Linked DNA regions of Homo sapiens. The protein of the gene in region 1 interacts with the protein of each later gene in a pairwise test. Each region holds a gene or a part of one and is shown in the gene's direction. Other genes may lie near its edges. The genes, in order: NRF1, SP4, L3MBTL2 and KLF15.

The links.
Region 2: the proteins of NRF1 (region 1) and SP4 interact in binary tests that used the Homo sapiens proteins (3 or more experiments, as listed by UniProt).
Region 3: the proteins of NRF1 (region 1) and L3MBTL2 interact in binary tests that used the Homo sapiens proteins (3 or more experiments, as listed by UniProt).
Region 4: the proteins of NRF1 (region 1) and KLF15 interact in binary tests that used the Homo sapiens proteins (3 or more experiments, as listed by UniProt).

The regions. Positions count from the first base shown.
Region 1 is NC_000007.14:129,754,676-129,757,576, forward strand, and holds the end of NRF1 (nuclear respiratory factor 1), read left to right. Parts: intron 1-342; coding exon 343-506; 3' UTR 507-2,401; downstream 2,402-2,901. UniProt on the Homo sapiens protein: Transcription factor that activates the expression of the EIF2S1 (EIF2-alpha) gene. Links the transcriptional modulation of key metabolic genes to cellular growth and development.
Region 2 is NC_000007.14:21,480,064-21,487,107, forward strand, and holds part of SP4 (transcription factor Sp4), read left to right. Parts: intron 1-1,438; coding exon of another isoform or gene 1,439-1,517; exon of another isoform or gene 1,518-1,860; coding exon 1,861-2,060; exon of another isoform or gene 2,061-2,061; intron 2,062-2,361; coding exon of another isoform or gene 2,362-2,390; exon of another isoform or gene 2,391-2,495; intron 2,496-2,547; coding exon of another isoform or gene 2,548-2,561; exon of another isoform or gene 2,562-7,044. UniProt on the Homo sapiens protein: Binds to GT and GC boxes promoters elements. Probable transcriptional activator.
Region 3 is NC_000022.11:41,201,370-41,208,311, forward strand, and holds the start of L3MBTL2 (lethal(3)malignant brain tumor-like protein 2), read left to right. Parts: upstream 1-3,942; 5' UTR 3,943-3,993; coding exon 3,994-4,017; intron 4,018-6,942. UniProt on the Homo sapiens protein: Putative Polycomb group (PcG) protein. PcG proteins maintain the transcriptionally repressive state of genes, probably via a modification of chromatin, rendering it heritably changed in its expressibility.
Region 4 is NC_000003.12:126,342,124-126,347,441, reverse strand, and holds the end of KLF15 (Krueppel-like factor 15), read left to right. Parts: intron 1-3,546; coding exon 3,547-3,715; 3' UTR 3,716-4,807; downstream 4,808-5,318. UniProt on the Homo sapiens protein: Transcriptional regulator that binds to the GA element of the CLCNKA promoter. Binds to the KCNIP2 promoter and regulates KCNIP2 circadian expression in the heart. Is a repressor of CCN2 expression, involved in the control of cardiac fibrosis.

The DNA.
Region 1 (2,901 bases):
GATTTTGAATGTTGTCACCACAATGAATGATAAATCTTTAAAGAGATTAATATGGTAATTTTCTTGATTTGATCATTCTACAGTGTATACATGCATTGAAACATCACATTGTACCCCATAAACATGAACAGTTACTATATATCAATTATAAATCTTAAAAATTAATGAAAAAAATTTTAATGGGGTGGGAAAGAGATGTCTTTGTGCCTGGGCCATGGGTATGTGATCACCTGAGGCTGGTGACCACGATACCTCAAAGGCAAGACTTGGGTGCCCCCGTCCAGCCAGCATCTGGGAACTTGAGCCTGAGCCCCACCAACGGTCTTCTCTTTGTCTCTCCAGGCCTGGTCCAGATCCCTGTGAGCATGTACCAGACTGTGGTGACCAGCCTCGCCCAGGGCAACGGACCAGTGCAGGTGGCCATGGCCCCTGTGACCACCAGGATATCAGACAGCGCAGTCACCATGGACGGCCAAGCTGTGGAGGTGGTGACATTGGAACAGTGACATACAGCCATATTATGGCATCGTTTTCTAGTCTACTTCAAAATTTTTTACACGTTTGCAGAGGTGCAATCAAATGGAATTAAGTCTCTCGACTTTGGAAGGAAAGTTTTGTTAACCTTTTTTTTTTTAAAAGGAAGAAAGCGGATTTTGGAATTGCATTTTTTAAAGCACCACTCTTGATTTTCTGGGATTGGTGAAGAAACTGCATTGTCAATTTCACTGTCCCAAAAAAGCCAAATTGTGGCAGGACTTCTTTCTGCGGAAATGTGTGTGTATACTTATGTGTGTGTATGTGTGAGTGTGAATATATGTATATGTGTACATATGGACATACACATTTACATATATATAAAGTATATATATACATATATATATATATATATGTATGAAACCCGCATGGAATTATCTGTATGAAATCAAGGTGCGCTGTGGAAACAATAATTCACCCAGTTTAGTGGGTGGTAGGGTACGTGGCCAGACACAGTCACCCAGTTTTTGTTCATACCAGGGTCATGCGTTGAGCTACTGACAAACTCAGGCGGAGGTGACCATGCCCTTCACCAAAGCTGCCTCCCAGTGGCCACACAGAACTCTCCCTGCTGGACTCACCTGAGGAAAGAGGCTCCAGCATGGGGTGGGTCAGAGATGTGCTTGCAAGGTCCAGGGACTGCGTGGTCTGCCAGCTGAGATGCTCCTCGGGCTGGCCCAGGTGCTGACCTTGCCACAGGCAGATGAATGTCTTGAAAGCTCCCGGGCCTCAGCCTCCCATCTCCTCTCCTTCCCAGGAATCCTTGATCTCATGACTATTAAAATGTTGCTCTGGTTTTAAGGTCAGTCCTGAATTGCTCGTATATATGAACTGAAGGTAACCGAAGTATTAGGGGTTTGAGGAGTGCGTGCGTGTAAGTGTGCTTGTGTGTGTGCGTGCATGGTGGGGGAGAGGATGGGAAGGGGGCGGGGGCAGTGGAAGGGAAAGGAAGGAAAGAAAAATCGTCCTAGACCAGGATACACCCGTGGGAGCAATTTTCTCTACTGTCTGTAGCTTCACAGAGGAGGCGCTGGAATGAACAAGAAGAGACATCTGGTCTGTGGCCACAGCACCCTGAACGCCCCTGATCTTGTGTGATCTTGGAAGCTAAGCTTGGTTGGGCCCGGTCAGTACGCGGAAGGGAAGAAGGGACACCTGGCCATAGAAAACAGCTGAGGGTGTTTGCTGTGTTCCTGGATCAGGCCCTGCTTCAGAAGGGACTCCTGGAGGCCCATGTTCCTTGATGCAACCTCGTGGCCCAGGCCGGGAGCAGCTTGCCTCCTCAGAGGTGTTGACTATCTGGGTGTTCTTGGTAACCGTTAACTCTGTCTTTCTCAGCTGCAAGCCCTGAGTCTCCAGTAGCTGAATTCACCTGACTTTTCAACAGGCCAAATCTCTGAACCTTGAGTACAGGGACAGCTCCTCCTCCCTCCTCCCAGCTCTCCCCATGTGTGTGATGGTGTATTTAATGTGTTTTTTTAATGCGACATTAAAAGATTCTCCACGTCTTGCTCAACCTTTGAGAGAAGTTTCAGATTCTTGTATTTGCTTGTTTTATATAAAACTATCTAATGTTCTTTATATGTTCTTTTCTGTACGTAATGGGGGGAGGGGAGGGAAATTTACATATAAATAGTCCTAGTTCTACAATTTGTTATTTTTTTAATTATTATTTTTTATCGTCATTGTGAAGTTGTCCAGGGACTTTAAAGTCCATGTTCCTTTGTGGTGAAATAACCTCCAAATAGTTTGAGAAGTTGCCAAGACGAAGAAAAAAGCAAAACCCCAGTAGCAGAGCATGGATTCTGTGTTGTTTCCCATTCTGTCTTTGACTGCCTCATTCAATAAATAGTTAAAAATGTGGCAACAGGAAGTGGAATTGTTCATCTCTATAGGAGCTCTTGGCTTCTTAGGCAAAAGGAACTCTATCTTGGGGCAGCTCGTTCTGCGTTTAAAATGCAGTCCTACTCGAGATCAGCGGTCTCCGACCTGTGCCACTCCGACGCTGGGGACCTCCGTAAAGAAGACACTGAAGATTGCCCAGAGCCCCCTGCGAGCCCCATCACCAGACCTGCTCCATTTCATACATTTCATATATAACGTGTTTTCTTATACTGACGTTCTGGGGAAAAAATCGTATTTAAAAAATCCTAGGCCGGGCACAGTGGCTCCCGCCTGTAATCCCAGCACTTTGGGAGGCCAAGGTGAGTGGATCACTTGAGGTCAGGAGTTCCAGACCAGCCTGGCCAACATGGTGAAACCTTGTCTCTACTAAAAATAGAAAAATTAGCTGGGCATGGTGGCGGGCGCCTGTAATCCCAGCTATTCAGGAGGCTGAGGCAGGAGAATCGCTTGAACCCAGGAGGC
Region 2 (7,044 bases), about 110 Mb from region 1:
AGATAGTTTTTACTTTTTCCTTTCTACTCTGCAGGAGTTCTGTTTCTTTTTCTTGCTTAGTTTCTCTGTCTGGAACCTCTGGTACAATGTTGACAGTGTGCTTGTATTTTGTTGAGGATTTTTGCATCCATATTCATAAGAGAGATGTCTGTGGTTTTCTTTTTGTATTGTTTTTATCTGATTTTGGTAATGATAATACTGGCTTCATAGAATGAATTGGAAAGTATTCCCTCCAAACTGGTATTAATTCTTTAAATGTTTTGTGGAATTTACCAGTGAAGCTGTCTGTTCTTGGGCTTTTCTTATGGGTAGTTTTAATTACGAATTCAGTCTAGTTGCTTGTTGTAGGTGTATTCTGATTGATTATTTGTTCTTGAGTCAGTTTTAGTATTTTGGTCCGTATTTTTCTAGGAATTTGTCCATCTCCTCTGAGTTACCCAAGTAATTGCCGTAGAATTGTTCATGGTATTCCTTTGTAATCCTTTTTGTTTCTATAAGGTTGGTAGTGATATCTCCTCTTTGATTTCTGATTCTAATAATTTGAGTCCTACTTTCTTGGTCAGTCTAGCTAAAAGTTTGTTAGTTTTGTTTACTTTTCCCAAGAATCTCAATATTTGACATTTTTTCTGACCCTAAGAAGGTTCTTCACAGCCTCTTTGCTCACTTCTTTCTGGCAAACTAGCCAACCTGTAGTTAAGCCTTTATTTCCAGTGAATCTCTTAGTCTTCTCCCAATTAACTGCCTTTTGAAACCATCTCTACTTTTTTTGAGAGTACCCTTAGGCTTGAACTTCTTCACATTGTCTTGCAAATGAAGTCAATTCCTTTGGGAAGAGATTTGGAGCTCTTTGTTTTATGGTGTGTTTCTGACTTATGGCTTTTGAACCGGGGGTTGAGACAGTGGCTTTCTTTCTGAGTTACAACCCTGCTTTAAGAGCTGAGTGCCTGGTTGCTGGGGCAGCAATAGCCTCAGGTCTTCTCAACTGGCCTCTCCTGGCTTAGAACTTTGACTTTATGAACTATGAATGGGCCAGGTCAAGGGCAACCTGGACCCCAGTATTTTCATCATGCCACATCCAAGGTAGAGTCTATGTCCCAGGGCTAAGGACTTGGTTCTGCTACACTTGCCTGGAACTTAGCAACAGGCAACCAGGGGTAAGATAAGAAATGCAGACATCTTGCCCCTCCTGGGGCCATACTCCTCTGACCGGGAGGTGGGAAGAGTAGGAATCATATTCTTAGCTGCACCAGTCTCTAATGTTCCTGTGTGGAAACGGGAGGAAGTAGGGAAGGGGAGAGTCTTGGTTCAAATACCACAGACTCTTACTGTTCTTACCAATTTCTGTGAGATTTTCTTGAATAAATGTTTCTTTATTTGCTGTTATTTGCTTTTAGAACCATTTCCAGAGACTTTAAATGGTATTTTTTGCTTTTTTTAGAATTTTCACTGGGAAACAGATCCATGGAACTCCTCACACTGCCCTGCTAGAAACGAAACTCTGCATCTTACACTTTTAACTGGATTTAGCCATCCTTTTGAAATTTTAGAGAAGTTTCAAGTGTTTTGAAAGGCTTAGAGAGATTTTTTTCCCAAGGGAAGAGCCCACTATGACCAGGAACGTGAGTCCATAATAGAGCATAAACTCTTTGAGATTAACACATTTTCATAGCAATTTGGTACACAGACCTGTTTTATTTTGTCTTTAACTGAAAATTTTCTGATTTGAACTACAGTTATGGCATCATGATCAAACCTATTCAGAGAAGCATCATTTAATTACCTTGATTCTTTTTAATTTTTCTATAATTGTAAACCTACTATTTGGCAGTGTAATTAATGTTCGGTTTTTGTTTTTGCTAGAGGCAGTAATGAACCAGGAAAAAAGAAGCAGCATATCTGTCATATTGAAGGATGTGGTAAAGTTTATGGCAAAACATCTCATTTACGAGCACATCTTCGCTGGCATACTGGAGAAAGACCTTTTATATGCAACTGGATGTTTTGTGGCAAAAGATTCACACGGAGTGATGAGCTCCAGAGACATAGAAGAACCCATACAGGTTAGTTGATTTTAGGACTTGTACTTTTTACTTATTTCTTCAGTTTTTACATGAAAATTTTAGTGATAGTTTAGCTATCAAATTGGAAATATGCAAATGAAGGAGAAGGCATTTACTTTAGCAATTATATGGAAGATGTTTAAGATGAACATTTTTAACCTCATTTCTGAGATACATTTTATTCTACTTTTTGTAAACTTTATCAGCATATTTATGAGACAAGTGGAATTTATTCCATTTGTTTATATTGTAATCTTAGCATGTTGAAATCATACATTGTTTTTCATAAGTGTTTAAATAGGTGAAAAGAGAGTTGAATTATCATCTTAATGGGGACTTTCATTAGTGTGTTTTAGTTTTTTTTTTTCTTAACAAATCCAGAAAATTCACCAAAGTATCAAGAATAATTAAATAATAAACATCTAACAACCCTCAGTCAGAATGGTCAGTTGTTAATATTATATTTTCTGCTTTTTTTCAAATACAGCAAAGCAGTTATAAAGTGAACATCATGTTTACCCTTTCACCTTTCAAAGACTGCAGCTGCTATAAATCTAATGTGTCTAAGTTTTACGTACACTTTTAATACTCTGACATATATGATTAATGGATCTACATAAAAAATGTTTTGTGTGTGTTATGAAATGTTACAATGTTGCAGAATTATAAATTTCACTTGTTTTGAGATCTGTTTGTACATATATGTATATTTGCATATATGAATTTCCTTGAACTGCTATATAATATTTTATCACATGAGTCTACCACACTATATTAATTCATTCCCATACTGTTTGAGGTTATTGCTAGGGTTTGTGTGTGCTATCACAAACTTAGTTGATGAGAACATGTGTGAGAAGTGGAATTATTGGATCATAGAGAATGTGTATGTTTGGTTTTGCTAGGTAATGGCTAAAGAGTCTCTACAGTGGCTATTTAACTAGCAGTGATTGATAGTTTCCACTTTGTGCTCACCAGTACCCAGTAGTGTCAGGCCTTGAAAGTTTTTTTCAATCTAAAATTGTTTCTTATTTTAAAAATTTGTGTTTTTCATGGTTATCCATGAGATTAAGCACCTTTCATATGTATATTAGTCATTTATGGCTTTGTTTTTTAATTCTGGTTCTCATTTTTTCTTTCAGAAGTTTTCCTTATTTATATGATTTATATGTTATACTTTTCCCTTTCAATAAAGGACTAGTGCTAGTCTTTTATCTTTGTCATACCTTTTGTCATATGGAAGTCTTACATTTTTATTTAGTCAAATATAAATCTTTTCTTTTGTCTTTTGCTTTTTGTTTATAAATTTTTCTTCTGTCCCAAGGTCATAAAGTCTCAAAAAACAATTTCTTCTAATAGCTTTAAAGTTTTATTTTTGTAAGTTTGATCTTTTATTCGCTCAAGATTCTTTTTGTTGATGGAATGAAATGAGAATACAATTTTATTTTTCTTTCATATGGAAAGCCCTTTCTTAAACAGCCCATTCTGTCTCTATTGATTGTCCTCTTTTACATAATGTCTCCTTTAAGTGTGGTTCAATTTCTGGTTTCTCTGTTTTGAAGTTTTTATCTATTTGCCAGTTCCTACACCAATGCTCTTACTATATTAATGACTGTGGTTTTATATTAAGCCTTGACTTCTTTTTGGGCAATTTTCCTTCTTTCTTTATTTTTTTTTCTTTTTTTGCCCAGAACACCTACCCTTTTCAGAATATTTAGAATTTGGGACTCAGTATTTCATTATTGAATAAATTAATTTCAATAAATTATTGAATTATACTTTATACTTTAAACCTGTACCAAGATACATGTGGGACAAAGGGAGAAATAAAACTGACATTTCTAAATCAGCTGCTATATTATAGTCAGATATTTTGAATATATTACTTCATTTGATTCTAACAACAGCAACACCGGCATAGAAATTAGCTCCATTTTAAGATTAGAAAGTAGTATCAGAAAAGAAAAAATTATGAAATCTATTAAAAATGGTAAATATAAAGTTATTTAATTTGATATACACATAAAGTAGTAATACAAATGAGTACAGATTGAGTACCCCTTGTCTGAAATGCTTGGGACTAGAAATGTTCTAGATTTCGGATTTTTTCAGATTTTGCATGTGCACAATGCAATACTTCGGGGATTCATTTTTGTTTCATATATACCTTATACATAAAGACTGAAGGTAATCTTATACAATATTTTTAATAATTTTATGTGTGAAAGTTTGTGTTAAGTACTTATGTGTGGAATTTTCTACTTGTGGGATCGTGTCAACACTCAAAAAGTTTCAGATTTTGGAGCAATTTGGATTTTAGATTTTTGTATTAGGGATGCTCACCCTGTGTTAGTATAGCGTCGCAATCCCTGAAAAAGTTAGCATTATAGTAAAGCTCTGAATTTTAATTTTAAAAAAGATAATTTGAAATCTTTCTGTATAGTATATACACCATTGACGTTGGCAAATATGATTGATTAAAAGTTAATTCCATACCAGTTGTTGATATCTGTTTTAGAAAAATACTCTGCTATTTAGGTCTGCATGAAAGGATGCAGTGTTTCCATCCTGGATTAGCAGTGGGATAAATTAGGGAAGCCAAGAAAATTTTCTACTTTGTTTGATTTGGAACCTCACATTATGATTGCTTCATTTTGTCTAAGAAATGATGAGTTGGTAAAGTCCCTCTCTCTTACACATCCACACACTTGCAGATACACAAAACAAATTTATTTAAGAATTTATATATACATATACTTCAAAACCAAATATTATGATTTGGGGCATATCTTTAAAAAAAAGATTCACACCATTATTATCTACTGGATTGACAATTCATAATCCAATATACTTTAAGCTTACTTTCAGTGGTTCAAACATCTTAAATATATCACACATAAAATTGTTTAATTAAAACAGGTTGACACTAAAAAATATTAATATCAGTATACTTAAAATTGTTACTTTTAAAGATTTAACAGAGTAACTCCTGTTTGTTAAATTTGTCTAAAAGAATATGAAAAAATATATTTTGAAATAAGTATTGATTAAGCATTTAATATGTTAAGTTGAAAGCCTTAACCATTCGTAGCAACAACTATGCTTTATTTGATGTCTAACCACTACTACAAATAGAAACTTATTGACTTGGCTATGAATGAATGGAGTTATTTGTATTCACTGCTGAAAATAGTGATCTGTTTGCTTTTTAAAAAAATTTGTAAAGGTTTTCAAAACAATATATGCATATGGTATTTAAAAATGAAATCACAGAAAAGTTTACTGTAATAAGGAGGCTCTTTGCCCCACCCCATCCTGCTTTCCAGAGAATATCATAGCTAACTATTTTAACTATTTTTGCATTTTTGTTCTTTCTAGGATGACTGTCATGTATCTAAATCATATACTTAAACACTGTTATTTATTGATCTATCAATATTTTATACTATCTATTGAGTTCTTGCATTTAGAATTAAGGATTTACTTCACTTTGCACCATCTGAAGACATTAAGATTCTTTTGAAAAACTGTATGCAGGCCAGGCATTCTCTCTTAACTCACCACTCTATTTCCAATAAAGTTAGACAATGCCTTTTCTTTTTTCTTGTATTGTTTGACTTTACCTGAAATAATCTTTAGTTATTTCAAGTTTTTAAGAACAATGTGAATTCCAGTCACATTTTCCTTTTTTCTGGAGCCTTCCATCTTTCTAATGAACATGAACAGTTTCTTCTGTAGACCTGTTCCAGGGGTATTATCTTGAGATTTCTTCCCTTCTCTGTTCGTTTTAGATCTCATATTGGTTCTCAAGATCTCGTGTTTTCATTTTTCTTGGTCTACTCTCTTCGTTGCTGGAAAACGTGCTGAAATGCTTCCTAACGAAAAGCTTGGGGAAATAAATTTGTCTAAAGGATTCTTTATTTTCTCTTTCTGCTTAATTTGGTTGTTTGGCTAATACAGTATTCTAGATTGAAAATTACATTCTCTTAAAACATTGTCACAGCTCTATTTTCTTTCATCTGTTTTATCAACAAGAGGTTTGTTATTTTTTCTTGTTTTTTTTTTCTGTAGGTGACCTGATTTCTTCCCTGCAGCTTTATTTTTATTTTGAAATAATTTTATACTTAGAGAAGAGTTGCAAAGCTAGCATAGAGTTCGCATATCATTCACCAAGCTTCCCTTATTGTAAACTTCTTGTATAACCACAGTACCTTATGAGAATTAAGAAATTAACATTGTTGCAATACTATTAATTACACTTTCCACCAATATACCTTTTCTTTTCCAGGATTCAGTCTGGAATAACACACTGCATTTGTTTGTCATGTTTCCTTAGTCTCCTGCAATCTGTGACTTTTCCTAGTCCTTTCCTTGTCTTTTATCACCTGGACACATTTGAAAGTGGTTTTGGTATTTTTAGAATGTCTGTCACATTGGGTTTGTCTAATGTTTTCTAATGATTAGAGTAAGATTGTGAATTGTCATGAGAAGAATAGCACATTAGTGTCTTTCTCTTATCATATAAGAGGAAGTATGTAATGTGATTATCTCATTATTGGTGATGTTAACCCTGATGTATTGGTTAATGTAGGGTGTGCCACATTTCTTCACTGTAAAGTTACAGTTTCTCTCTTTCCATATTGTTTGTTAGAAGCAAGTCACTAAGTTCAGTCGACATTCAGGGGGAAGAGAACTAAGCTTCACCTCCTGAAGGGAGAAGTATCGAAGAATTTGTGGACATATGTTAAAACCACCACAATAATTACTATTTTAGAGGAGTTTGGGGGGCTTTTTTACAAATAAAATACTAAAGCTTCACTTTTAGCATTCCTCAGTGGATCTTGCCTGCAGCAGTTATTACTGTGATGTTTGAAAGGTCATTTTCAATTTTCCTTGTTCTTTGTACCACTTATACTTTCTTCTCCAATTATTTATGCAATCATTTATTTACATTGGTATGGTCTCATGAGTAGTTCTTTTGTTC
Region 3 (6,942 bases), on another chromosome or scaffold:
TGAAATGGCCGTTTATTAGGAATTCAGTTGAAACATCTTATTAAGCACAGGTTGCTAAGCAATAGTGGCCGCCCCAGAACAGTAACAGTGTGGCAGTTCCTTCTGCTATGGAGCTCCTGGGCAGGGGTTTCATCCTGCAGCAAAGGTACCCTTTTTGGCTGGACTAATTCATCCCTCTACATGTGGACCTAATACGCTCCTCTCTTTTAAGGCCCTCCCTCTGTGCATCACTGTCCCTCTGTCTGGGATCATTGATCTGTCTCTCTCTACTAGATCACTCCCAATAGCAACACAAACGTGCTCTTCTGTTCCAAACTATGTACATAAATCCCTTAAACTCACCTCTTCTGCTCTATGCCCTGCCATTGTGCTATTCCACCCAGACAACTTTTTTGTTGTTGTTGGTTTTTGTTTGTTTGTTTGTTTTTTGAGAGAAAATCTTGCTCTGTCGCCCAGGCTGGAGTACAGTGGCATAATCTCGGCTCACTGCATCCTCCACCGCCCTGATTCAAGCAATTCTCCGGTCTCAGCCTCCCGAGTAGCTGAGACTACAGGCGCATGTCACCACACCCGGCTAATTTTTGTAGTTTTAGCACAGATGGGGTTTCACCATATTGGTCAGGCTGGTCTCGAACTCCTGACCTCAGGTGATCCACCTGCCTCAGCCTTCCAAAGTCCTTGGATTACAGGCATGAGCCACTGTGCCCGGCCAATATTTTTCTATTTTTAGTAGAGATGGGGTTTCACCATGTTAGCTAGGCTGGTCTCAAACTCCTGACCTCAAGTGATCCACCCACCTCAGCCTCCCAAGTAGCTGGGACTATACGCTTGTGCCACCACACCAGGCTAATATTTTGTAATTTTTTTTAATTGACACAGGGTTTTCACCATGTTGGCCAGGGTGGTCTAGAATTCCTTTTTTGTTTTTTTTCCAAGCTGGAGTGCAATGGCGCGATCTCAGCTCACTGCAACTTCCGCCTCCTAGGTTCAAGCGATTCTCCTGCCTCAGCCTCCGGAGTTGCTGGGATTACAGGCATGCCTCACCAAGCCCGGCTAATTTTTGTATTTTTAGTAAAGATGGGGTTTCACCATGTCGGCCAGGCTGGTCTTGAACTCCTGACCTCAGGTGATCCGCCCACCTTGGCCTCCCAAAGTCCTGGGATTACAGGCGTGAGCCACCGCGTCTGGCAGAACTCCTGATATCAAGTTATCCACCTGCCTCAGCGTCCCAAAGTGCTGGGATTACAGGTGTGAGCCACCATGCCCAGCCAGACAACTTTTTTTTTTCTCTGTCACCAGGGTAGAGTGCAGTGGCATGAACATGGTTCACTGTAGCCTCAACCTCCTGGGCTCAAGCAATCCTCCCTCCTCAGCCTCCAGAGTATCTGGGACCACAGGTACATGCCACTACACTTAGCTAATTTTAAAAAATTTTTAGCTGGGCACAGTGGCTCAGGCCTGTGATCCCAGCACTTTGGGAGGCCAAGGCAGGCGGATCACGAGGTCAGGCGATCAAGACCATTTGCCCAGGTGGGCGAATCACCTGAGGTCGGGAGTTCGAGACCAGCCTGACCAACATGGAGAAACCCCATCTCTACTAAAAATACAAAAAAAAAAAAAAAAAATTAGCCAGGTGTGGTGGTGCATGCCTGTAATCCTAGCTACTTGGGAGGCTGAGGCAGGAGAATTGCCTGAACCTGGGAGGCAGAGGTTGTGATGAGCCGAGATCGCGCCATTGCACTCAAGCCTGGGCAACAAGAGTGAAACTCTGTCTCAAAAACAAACAAACAAAAAAACTCTAATGCCGTTCCCTTGCACAGAATAAAATCCAAGCACTCCACAAGACCCTGAATGACCTGGTCTCAGCTTTCTCTCAAACCTCATCTTGTATCACCCTCTCCATGTTTTGCTATATCCATCTACTCTCTCTGTCTTTCTGTTTATTGCATACCAAGCTTGAGTTGGCCCCAGGACCTTTGCACTTGCTGTTCCACCAATGTGGCCTTTGCACTTGCTGAACCAACCTGTCTTTTTCTTTTTTTTTCACCACTATCTTATTCCAGAACATTTATTTTTATTTTTATTTTTTGAGATGGAGTCTTGCTCTGTTGCCCAGGCTGGAGTGTAGTGGTGCAATCTCGGCTCACTGCAACCTCTGACTCCCTTGTTCAAGCGATTCTCCTGCCTTAGCCTCCCAAGTAGCTGGGATTACAGGCACCCGTCATCACACCCAGCTAATAGTTGTATTTTTAGTAGAGATAGGGTTTCATCATCTTGGCCAGGCTGGTCTCGATCTCCTGACCTTGTGATCTGTCCATCTTGGCCTCCCAAAGTGCTGGGATTACAGGCGTGATCCACTGCACCCGGCCAGGTCAATGAGTTTTAAAGATCACCTGTGTGTATTAAAGGTGAAGATTTAAAAAGGGTGACCACAGGAGGTGGAGGTTGCAGTGAGTGGAGATCCCACTGCATTCCAGCCTGGGCGACAGGGGAGACTCCATCTCAATCAATCAATCAATCAATAAAAGAAAGAAAGAAAGGGTGACCAGTTGAAGGGCTGCTGCAATGGGCCGGTGGCTTGTATTAGAGTGGTAGTGGTGGAGGAAATACAGGATATATTTTGGAGGTAGAAAAACCAACACGTTGACAGCATGGATACAGGGGTTTAGGGTGGAAGGGGTTGAAGGAAAGAAAGACCTCTAGGAAGAGTTTGACATCTCCACGGCGGACTTCAAATTTAGGCATATATTTTATATGTATTCAGCCTCCACATATTGCATTTAGAGTCTCAATTAATTCACTGGGACACGGCATGGCATAGGGAAGGAATCTGTACTAAATTTGGAATCCCAATCCTGTGTGATCTTGGAAAGTGCCTAAACCTGAAGTGGTGAAGAGCCACCACTTCCTCTTCTTTCAAACGGTGATAGGATGTCTAAGGGTTTGAAAAGATGTTTGCAAAGCTCCACAACAGCACCTAGAACTCAGGGTGTCTAAGGAGGTTGTGGGAAACCCTAACGGGATGAGGCAGAGAGCCTCAGATTCGAGGTTTTTACCCAGGAGAGAGTGGTGAAGGAGGAATGTTGTAAGATTTTGAGCAGGCTGGACATTTACAGTATTGAGAAAAAGAATATTCCAGTTTCAGCCGGGCGCGGTGGTTCACGCCTGTAATCCCAGCACTTTGGGAGGCCGAGGCGGGTGGATCCCGAGGTCAGGAGTTCAAGACCAGCCTGGTGAAACCCCGTCTCTACTAAAAAATACAAAAATTAGCCGGGCTTGGTGGTGGGCGCCTGTAGTCCCAGTTACTTGGGAGGCTGAGGCAGGAGAATCGCTTGAACCTGGCAGGCGTAGGTTGCAGTGAACCGAGATCGCGCCACGGCACTCCAGCCTGGGCGACAGGGCAAGACTTCGTCTCAAGAAAACACACACACACACACACACACACACACACACACACACACACACACACACAGAGTATTCCAGTTTCTTCCTTTTTTTTTTCTTTTTAATCTGGAGTAGTCCAGTTTCTGCCTGAGTTGGAAATGAGTCCCTCTGCTATGCATCCCAGCAAAAGGGCACCTTAAATATCTAACCCGGGAGAGTACGAGGTTATTCCTGGAGTCTGGAACAGTGACTATCATAGGTGCTCAATAACCGTTTAGGGAAGAATAACATCCAGTGAAGTCAAGAGGTTGGCGTAATTGGAACACTCGGCGTGAGGCGCACCAGGTTTCCAGCGCCCCTGGTTTCCACGTCGCTATGGTAACGACTCACCCTGCACACATGCGAACTACAATTCCCATAACCGCCCGCGGCTTCCCCGCCCACAGGGAGAGAATGGCGGGAGCAGGCACGGAACCGGCTTTTCCTCCTTCCTGCAGCGTGATTGGCCCGCGGCTCAGGGAGGCGACCAATGAGTGCTCTCGCGGAGAGCGACGGGGCAGGCCAATATGGCTTCCTGCACCTGGTGACGCTTGGCGAAACTGAGGTCTCATGGAGAAGCCCCGGAGTATTGAGGTGAGAAGGCGAGGACTTAGCGTGACTGGGAAAGGGAACTCCGAGAGCCTCGCTCCGTGGGCCCTTCTTTAGGGCTTTTAGCGACGCCTGGAGGGTGGAGGGTGGGAGGATGGATAAACTGAGGTAGTTAAACTGAGCCAGGGGCAGAGGCAATTGACGTTACTTTTTGCCCCTCTCCTGCTGGGGCCAACGTTCGGCGAGGAGTTCAGGGAGGAACAGCCGTCCCTGGCCTGGGGGAAAGGGAACTAGGTTTAGGATCTGAGAGCTCCTGAATCTTCCTTATCCTGCTTGTCTCGTGGCTGTGTTGTTTAGGGCTTGTGAGGCCTGTTACATGAGGTGGGAAGTGAAGGGAGATTAAAGTTGGGTGAACATCACTCCTTGTCTGTAACGTTCACGTGCATTATCTTCCAGTACACTCACAGCAATCATGTATTATTCTTTCGTCTTTGTCGTTCAAGCCACTGAGGCTTAGAGGTGGTGCGACACCCCAGGAAGTTACCCCGGCTGGAAAGTGAAGGAGATTGGCACTAAGTCTGTCCGCCTCTGAAACTTTGCCTGTTATGCTTTTCACACTGTACTGCAACCTGGAACCCACTCATCCTTTTTTTTTTTTCTTTCAGACGGAGTCTTGCTCTGTCACCTAGGCTGGAGTGCAGTGGCGCGATCTCGGCTCACTGCAACCTCCGTCTCCCGGGTTCAAGCAATTCTGTCTCCATCTCCCATGTTCCTGGGATTACAGGCATGTGTCACCACACCCGGCTAATTTTTGTATTTTTAGTAGAGACGAGGTTTTGCCATGTTGGTCGGATTGGTCTCGAACTCCTGACCTCAGGTGATCTGTCTGCTTCACCTCGGCCTCCCAAAGTGCTGGGATTACAGGCATGAGCCACTGCACCCCGCCTCATCCTTTAATCATTTGGTTTCTGGGCACCTTATATTTAAGAGACGGGGTGTTCCTATGTTGCCCTGGCTGGAATGCAGTGGTTACTCACAGGCGTGATGACAACGCACTGCAGCCTCTAACTCTTGGGCTCAAGCAATCCTTACACCTCAGCCTCCTAAGTAGCTGGGACTATAGGTGGTCTCTGTCACCCTGCCTGACAAGGGTACCTATATTTGAATTGTTTCCTTGCTGGGTGCGGTGGCTCACGCCTGTAATCCCAGCACTTTGGGAGGCCGAGGCGGGCAGATCACGAGGTCAGGAGATCGAGACCATCCTGGCTAACATGGTGAAACCCCATCTCTACTAAAAATACAAAAAAATTAGCCGGGCGTGGTGGCAGGCACCTGTAGTCCCAGCTACTCGGGAGGCTGAGGCGGGAGAATGGCGTGAACGTGGGAGGCGGAGCTTGCAGTGAGCCGAGATCGGGCCACTGCACCACTGCACTCCAGCCTGGACGACAGAGCGAGACTGTGTCTCAAAAAAAAAAAAAAATTGCTTCCTTTCTAGCATATTTGCATGTGTAGTTGCAAATATAAGGTGGAATAGCTCAAACTTTCTGCAAGGGTAAACGAGAATAATCATGTGGAGAATAAGAATAGCAAGTCACACTTTTAGAGCTGTTACTGACTGCTGGAAATAGAACTAGGTTTTACATATCTTATCTCAATCTTCGTAAGAATTCTCTAAAGAAAGCTTATTACCTCTCTTGTAATGATGACAGCAGCAAGATAAAATACGCACAAAATCACACAGTTAATAAATGTTAGAGCCAGGATTCAAACTCAGGCAAATCAGAGCCTATGCTTTCAACCAGTAAAAATTGGCAACCTTTATTGAGCACTTACTATATGCAAGTCACTATTCTGAGAGCTTTGCCTGTATCGTCTCTTACTTCTCCCCCAAATCCTTTTTTTTTTTTTTTTTTTTTTTTTGAAACAGGGTTGCTCTCTGTCACCCAGGCTGGAGTGCAGTGGTGCAGTCATAGCTAACTGCAGCCTTGACCTCCCTGGCTCAAGAGTTCCTCCCACCTCAGCCTCCCTAACCAAAACACCCAGCTAATTTTTTCCATTTTTTATAGAGACAGGGTTTCCCTATGTTGCCCAGTCTGGTCTTGAACTCCTAGGCTCAAGCAATCCTCCTGTCTCGGCCTCCCAAAGTGCTGGGATTACAGGCATGAGCCACCATGGCCAGCCCCCAAACCCTATGAAATAGGTGGTACTATCCTCATTGTACAGATGTGGAAACTGAAGCACTGCAAAATTGACTTGCTGCAGGTCATACAGCGAGTAAGCACTAGAGATATTTGAGCTCTGGACCAGAGGCCAAACTTTTCTCCTTTCTTCACACCTTTTTTTTCCTTTGAGACAGTGTCTTCCCTCTGTCATCCAGGCTGGAGTGCAATGGTGTGATCATGATTCAGTGCAGCCTTGACCTCCCAGGCTCAAGCTGTCTTCCCACCTCAGCCTTCTGAGTAGCTAGAGCCACAGGTGCATGCCACCACCACCCAGCTTTTTTTTTTTGAGAAGGAGTCTCACTCTGTTGCCCAGGCTGGAGGGCAGTGGTGCAATCTCGGCTCACTGCAACCTCCAACTCCTGGGTTCAAGTGATTCTCCTGCCTCAGCCTCCCGAGTAGCTGGGATTTCAGGCACCCACCATCATGCCCAGCTATTTTTTGTATTTTTACTAGAGATGGGATTTCACCATGTTGGCCAGGATGGTCTTGAACTCCTGGTCTTAAGTGATCCGCCCGCCTCGGTCACCCAAAGTGCTGGGATTATAGGTGTGAGCCACCGCACCCAGCTTTTTTTTCTTTTTCTTTGGAGACAGGATGTCATTCTCTTGCCCAGGCTGGATTGCAGTGGCATGGTTATGGCTCACTACAGCCTTGACCTCCCAGGCTCAAGCAGTCCTTCCACCTCAGCTCCAAGAAGCTGGGACTACAGGCGCATGCCACCACACCTGGCTAATTTTTTTTTCTTTTG
Region 4 (5,318 bases), on another chromosome or scaffold:
CGTCAGAGCCAAGAGGTGGTAGGTGCAGGATTCAAACTTAGGGGTCTGGCTCCCAGCCTGCTCTCATGACCCCTCTGCATTGAGGCTTTTTCTGACCTCCTTCCCTCTGTAGGCAGAGGCCCCCAGTATGGTTGGGCAGGTTGTGAACTGCACAACTCTAGGGAGCACCATTTCCATTGCAGTTTCTGAGACTGGACTGTTTGCGGTGTTGTCTGGCGGATGAGGGTTAGTGTCTCAAGGAAGGGACGCCTTCATACAGAAGTGCTGTATGCACCAGCCCTGACATTATAGCTGCTCTAGAGAGACACTGGACCCCTGTGTACCCTCTGCCCTACAGCTCAGCACAAATCATAGTGCTGCCCTGTCTGCAGCAGGACCCACCAGGAACCAGGCCCAACACTCAACTCCATGCAGGTGATAAGAGCTCATCATTCTTGAATAATTGCCACGTGCTAAGCAGGGCTCTAAACCGTTACTGGTTGCCTTGTACAATCCTCACAGTCCTCAGGAATAGGTCTTTTGTTCTCCCTTTGTCTGGGTAGAGAAACTGAGGCTCAGGGAGCTTGGTGACTTTCCTAGTTTGCCTGGTTGGTAAGTGGCAGAGCTTACTGCCTACAAGGGCTGCATCTTACCCACCGGGTTCCCACATCCCCCACTGTAGTCCCCAGGGCTCTCTGTTGGCTGCTGTTTGGGAGAATGTGGCATGCAGGGGTGAGGCAGGGGGTCTTCTGAGGGCTCAGTTCCCAGGGAAGTTCCTCTCAGGTGCCAGGACCCTGTGGCAGCAGGGAGGGAATTCAGGTGAGGACAGCATGTTGTCCAGCTTGGTTCTATCTCATCTGCCTGTCCTTCCCAGGGTGTCACCATGACCAGAGATCTGTGTGGCCCCACGTCACCACCTGTGGCCTTTGAGATGAGTCTTGGAAGGTGGGCAGGAATGCCAGAGTCTTCATTGGATGAATGAAGAAATTGAGGCCCAGAAAGGACCATTCAGGGCACCCAGTGGGGTGGGAACTGTCAAGGCAGGAGCCTGAGACTCTGTCCCCTGGGCTGTGTGACTTGGCCTCTTTAAACCCTTGCCATGGTCTTGCCAGTCCAATGGGGCTGGCTCATCCTGGTTCCCTGGCCAGTGAGATGCTGGGTGACCCCAGGGCTGCAGCCTGGGAGGCGTGGCACTCTGTGTCTGCAGCTTTCTGCTTACCCCTGCCCTGGGCCAGCTCCTCTGCTCAGAAGCTGTGTGCCCAGCTGCAGCTGGGGGCAGGTGTCCTGCCCAGGAGCACAGGTGTCAGCTTTGACTGCCAGGGCACATTTATCCCATTTCCTCACTGGCACAGGGCCCTGTGACACACACACCCATCCAGGCCTGTACAGGAGGCTGGGGGGCTCTGCTGACTGGGAGTCCAGGTCATCTGCCATTGCCAGGGCAGGGGGCTGTGTCAAGACCTCTGCTCCAGCCTCAGGGGCCCTGTCTTGTCAGTGACCTGGACCAGGCCCTCAGCACCCTGAGCTTCAGTTTCCTCCTCTGACAGGCAGGGCAGTTGGGCTTCACCTAGTCTGGAGATGTGCTGAAAGCACTGCCCTGTGCCTGGTGCCACCACCACTCTGTGATGTGAGTCGGAGTTCCTGTCTCCTCCTGCAGGCCCTCCTGCCACCCCCTGTGCCTTGTCCAGAGCATGTTCTGCTGGGTCCTTCTGCTCTTCCACCCACAGGGTCAGGGCGCCAGGGCATCACCAGCCCTTACCAATTGCTGGGTGGGAACTGCTGCTCTGGGCACCGCCTCTCGCTGGGTGGCCCTGGTCCACAAAGGGGTGTTGGGCCTCGTGTCCCTGTGTGTGTGTGTGTGCGTGAGTACATGGGGGCATGAATTTGTGCCTGTGTGTGTGTGTGTGTGAGTATGTGTGGGCACATATTCGTCCGTGTATGTTTGTGTGCCTGTATGTGTGGGCATGTATTTGTCCGTGTGTGTGTGCGTGCATGCTTTGGGACTGCTCCTTGACAGTGTCTGCCCCCCTAGGGCTGCTTGCTGTGCCCACTCTTGCATTGAAATCCACCTCCTCAGCACCTACCATATACCAGGCATTGGGCTGGTCATGGGAAGACCACCGGGAACCAAGACAAACATGTCCTTTGTCATGGAGCTGACAGTCTAGTGGGACAGACTGACAGTCATCAAAAAGTTGAAGATAATTTAAAATCAAAACAACAGCAAGAATGAGGAGAGAGAGGTGTGTAATGCCACAGGAGCCTAGAATTGGATGCAGTCCTGGAGGGATTTCCTAAGGAAGTGACATTCGAGCTGAGCTCTAAGGAATGGGTAGGAGAGAGCAAGGAGGGGGAGGGAAGAACATTCTAGAAAGAGGGAACAGTATGTGCAAATGGCCTGTGGCAAGAAGGACCAAGGAAAGGTCAATGCAGGTGGAGCACAGAGCGGGATAGTGTGTCGTGGGAGGGGTAGGTGGGGTGGGAGGGACCTGCTGCCAAGCCAGGGGTGGAGAGGGCCTCAAATCCCTGAGGTTGGTGGCAAGCAGTCCAGGCCCTCGATGCAGCTTGGGCTCTTGACTGTCACATGAGTGCCTGCTCCCAGGCCAGCAGGGCCAAGAAAGCGAAATGTCGGGAGCCACCTGAACTCCCAGATACACTTTGCAGGGTCAATCTTTATTTGGGCCTGCCTTAGAGGGCCCAGCTTCCAGCACAGCTGGTTTCAGGAGTGGGTGGACTCAAGTCTGAGGACCTCTCTCCCTGTGCTGCTTCCTCCTCCCAGGCCTCCGTTTCCCCTCCGGATGGGCGGTCCTGTACAGGCCTTCACAGATGCCCCTGTGGAGTTCTGGTCCAGTGGGGTAGATGAGGCCAGGGTGGTGAGAGGCAGCCAGCATCAGGGCCTGAGCGACTGAGTGCACCTGTGGCCTCAGAGACCCCTGCACACTGGGTGGGCTGTGGGAGGGAAGCCCTGGTCCCTGGTAGCATTGGGGTCCTTTCCTGTTGGGAGCTTTTACCAGCTGCTCTGGCAGTTCCCAACAGAGAATGCCCACTGTGCCAGCATGAGCCTTTACTGTAGTTCTTTCCATCTTGGAGGGGTGGCAGGGGCAGCTTGGCACAGTGGCTCACGCCTTTAATCCCAGCACTTTGGGAAGCTGAAGTAGCCTGATCGCTTGAGCCCAGGAGTTTGACACCAGCCTGGGCAACATAGGGAGGCCTGGTCTCTAAAAAAAAATACAAAAACTATCTGGGTGTGGTGGGCACACCTGTAATCCTAGCTACTCTGGAGGCTAAGGAGGATTGATTGAGCCCGGGAGGCTGCAGTGAGCTGTGATGGCGCCACTGCACTCCAGCCTGTCTCAAAAAAAGAAAAAAAAATGGTATTTTGAGAACTGGTATAGCCTTACCGACGTAGATGGGGGACCCTCCCCTAATCCTGTAGAGGCTGCAGGTCTGCGCAGCCACCCTTTGGGTGAGTGCCAGGTGCACGCCTTGCATCCCGGCAACTTCGTGGGGTCGGGGCAGGCAGGGGCAGGCAGGGCCAGGCCTCGCTGACCGCGCCATGTCCCGCAGGTTCTCGCGCTCTGACGAGCTGTCGCGGCACAGGCGCTCGCACTCAGGTGTGAAGCCGTACCAGTGTCCTGTGTGCGAGAAGAAGTTCGCGCGGAGCGACCACCTCTCCAAGCACATCAAGGTGCACCGCTTCCCGCGGAGCAGCCGCTCCGTGCGCTCCGTGAACTGAAAGCGCCCTGAACCCCAGCCTGTCCGTCACCCCGGATCCCCACCCCATCCCCATTTTTTTAAGCAATAATTTATTTGCCTCCTCCAGAGGGACATGGCAATGTTACCAGCCCACCTTCTGAAGCCTGGGAGGTGTGAACCCAGGGCCCGCCAACCGCTGCCTTTCTCGGGAGTACTTAGAGCCTCGAACCCGCGTCCCTGGGGGCTGGGCCCCAGGCGCACGGGGCTGGAGGCAGGCCTTCGTGCCTTCGTGCCTTCGTGCCTTCCCGCGGTGGCCAGGCCTCTGCTGCAGCCGCTGGTTGCAGGCAGAGTTTTGGGGACCTGGCCCTTCTCCCACTGGGCTCCCCCATCCTGGGCCAAGGCCAGAACTTTAGTGCTAGGGGAAGATGAAATGTGCAGTTTTGAAATGTTGGGTTTCCAGAGAGAGTCATGCTGGAGGAGAAGGAAGTAGGCCAGAAGTCCAGGGCTGCACTGTGGTGTGAGGGTGGCTTTGTCTAAGATGCCTGCTCAGCATGATCACCAGAGGGTGTGGGCAGGTCCCTGGAGCCGGGGGGGGGGGGGGGGGGGGGGGGGGGCAGGACCGGGCCGCTGGGCCCTCATGTGGGAGAGAGGTGAAAAGCGTCCCCCACTAGGGGGCTGGCAGTGCATGTGCTTGAGTTAAATGTGCAGGGCAGACAGAGCCAGAAGGGCCTGTACCCAGGGGCTCGTCCCCTCCTCCGGTTTCCCAGACAAATCCAGACACCAGCCTTTAGGGTGGCCTTGGGAGGAGAGGGCCAGGCTGTCCTGGGTGTGAGAGAACTAGATAGAGCCTCCCAACCCTGATTTAGAAATGCATTCCTTATTTTGTCTAGAAATTAATAAATGAACTAGCTTGTTTTGACAGGTTTATTTCACATCCTATGAATGTATGTAAATAAACTGTACATAGGTCCATCCACATAAAATATCTTTTAATAACATATCAACATTTGTGTAAATTTGAAATTTAAAAAAATCTATGAAGCTGGTGTACATATGTTACAATTACGTATATTTTCTTTGGTCCTTCATAAAAATATATTTACTTTGCCAATAAAAAGAAAAAGAACTCACAGCTTTTGGCATTCATGTGCTGTTTTCCTGCTTTGCCGGGATGTGGAGGTGACTCTGGGGCCGAGTCTATGTCTCCACCTTCGCAGAGTTCAGGGAACTCTGTTTTGTATTTGGAGGGATAGAAAGGCCCCTTGGGGTCCAGCCCCGGTCCAGCAGGGTAGGGTTCCCATACAGCTCAGCTCCAGGCCAGCTGCTGAGATTCTGCTCATCCCGGCTCCCTGACCTGGAGCTCCGTAAACCCAAATCCAGCCCACATTCCGACAGCACCTGTGGGAAGCTGCCTCAGGCCTGGCCAGTCCTGCGAGGCTCACCTACTCTGCTATCGGAGACCCTTTCTTGCACTTCCTACCCCCATCCAGTCCACCAAACCTATTACACATGCCCTATATGTTTGCTGTGCCTTGGCAGAGTATTTACCCCCTTAGGAACGTGGCTGTGCCATTTCCTACTGGCGTGGGTAATTGTGAAAGTGTTAGGAATCCTGAGCAGGCAGAGGTGAGACTCGGAGAGGC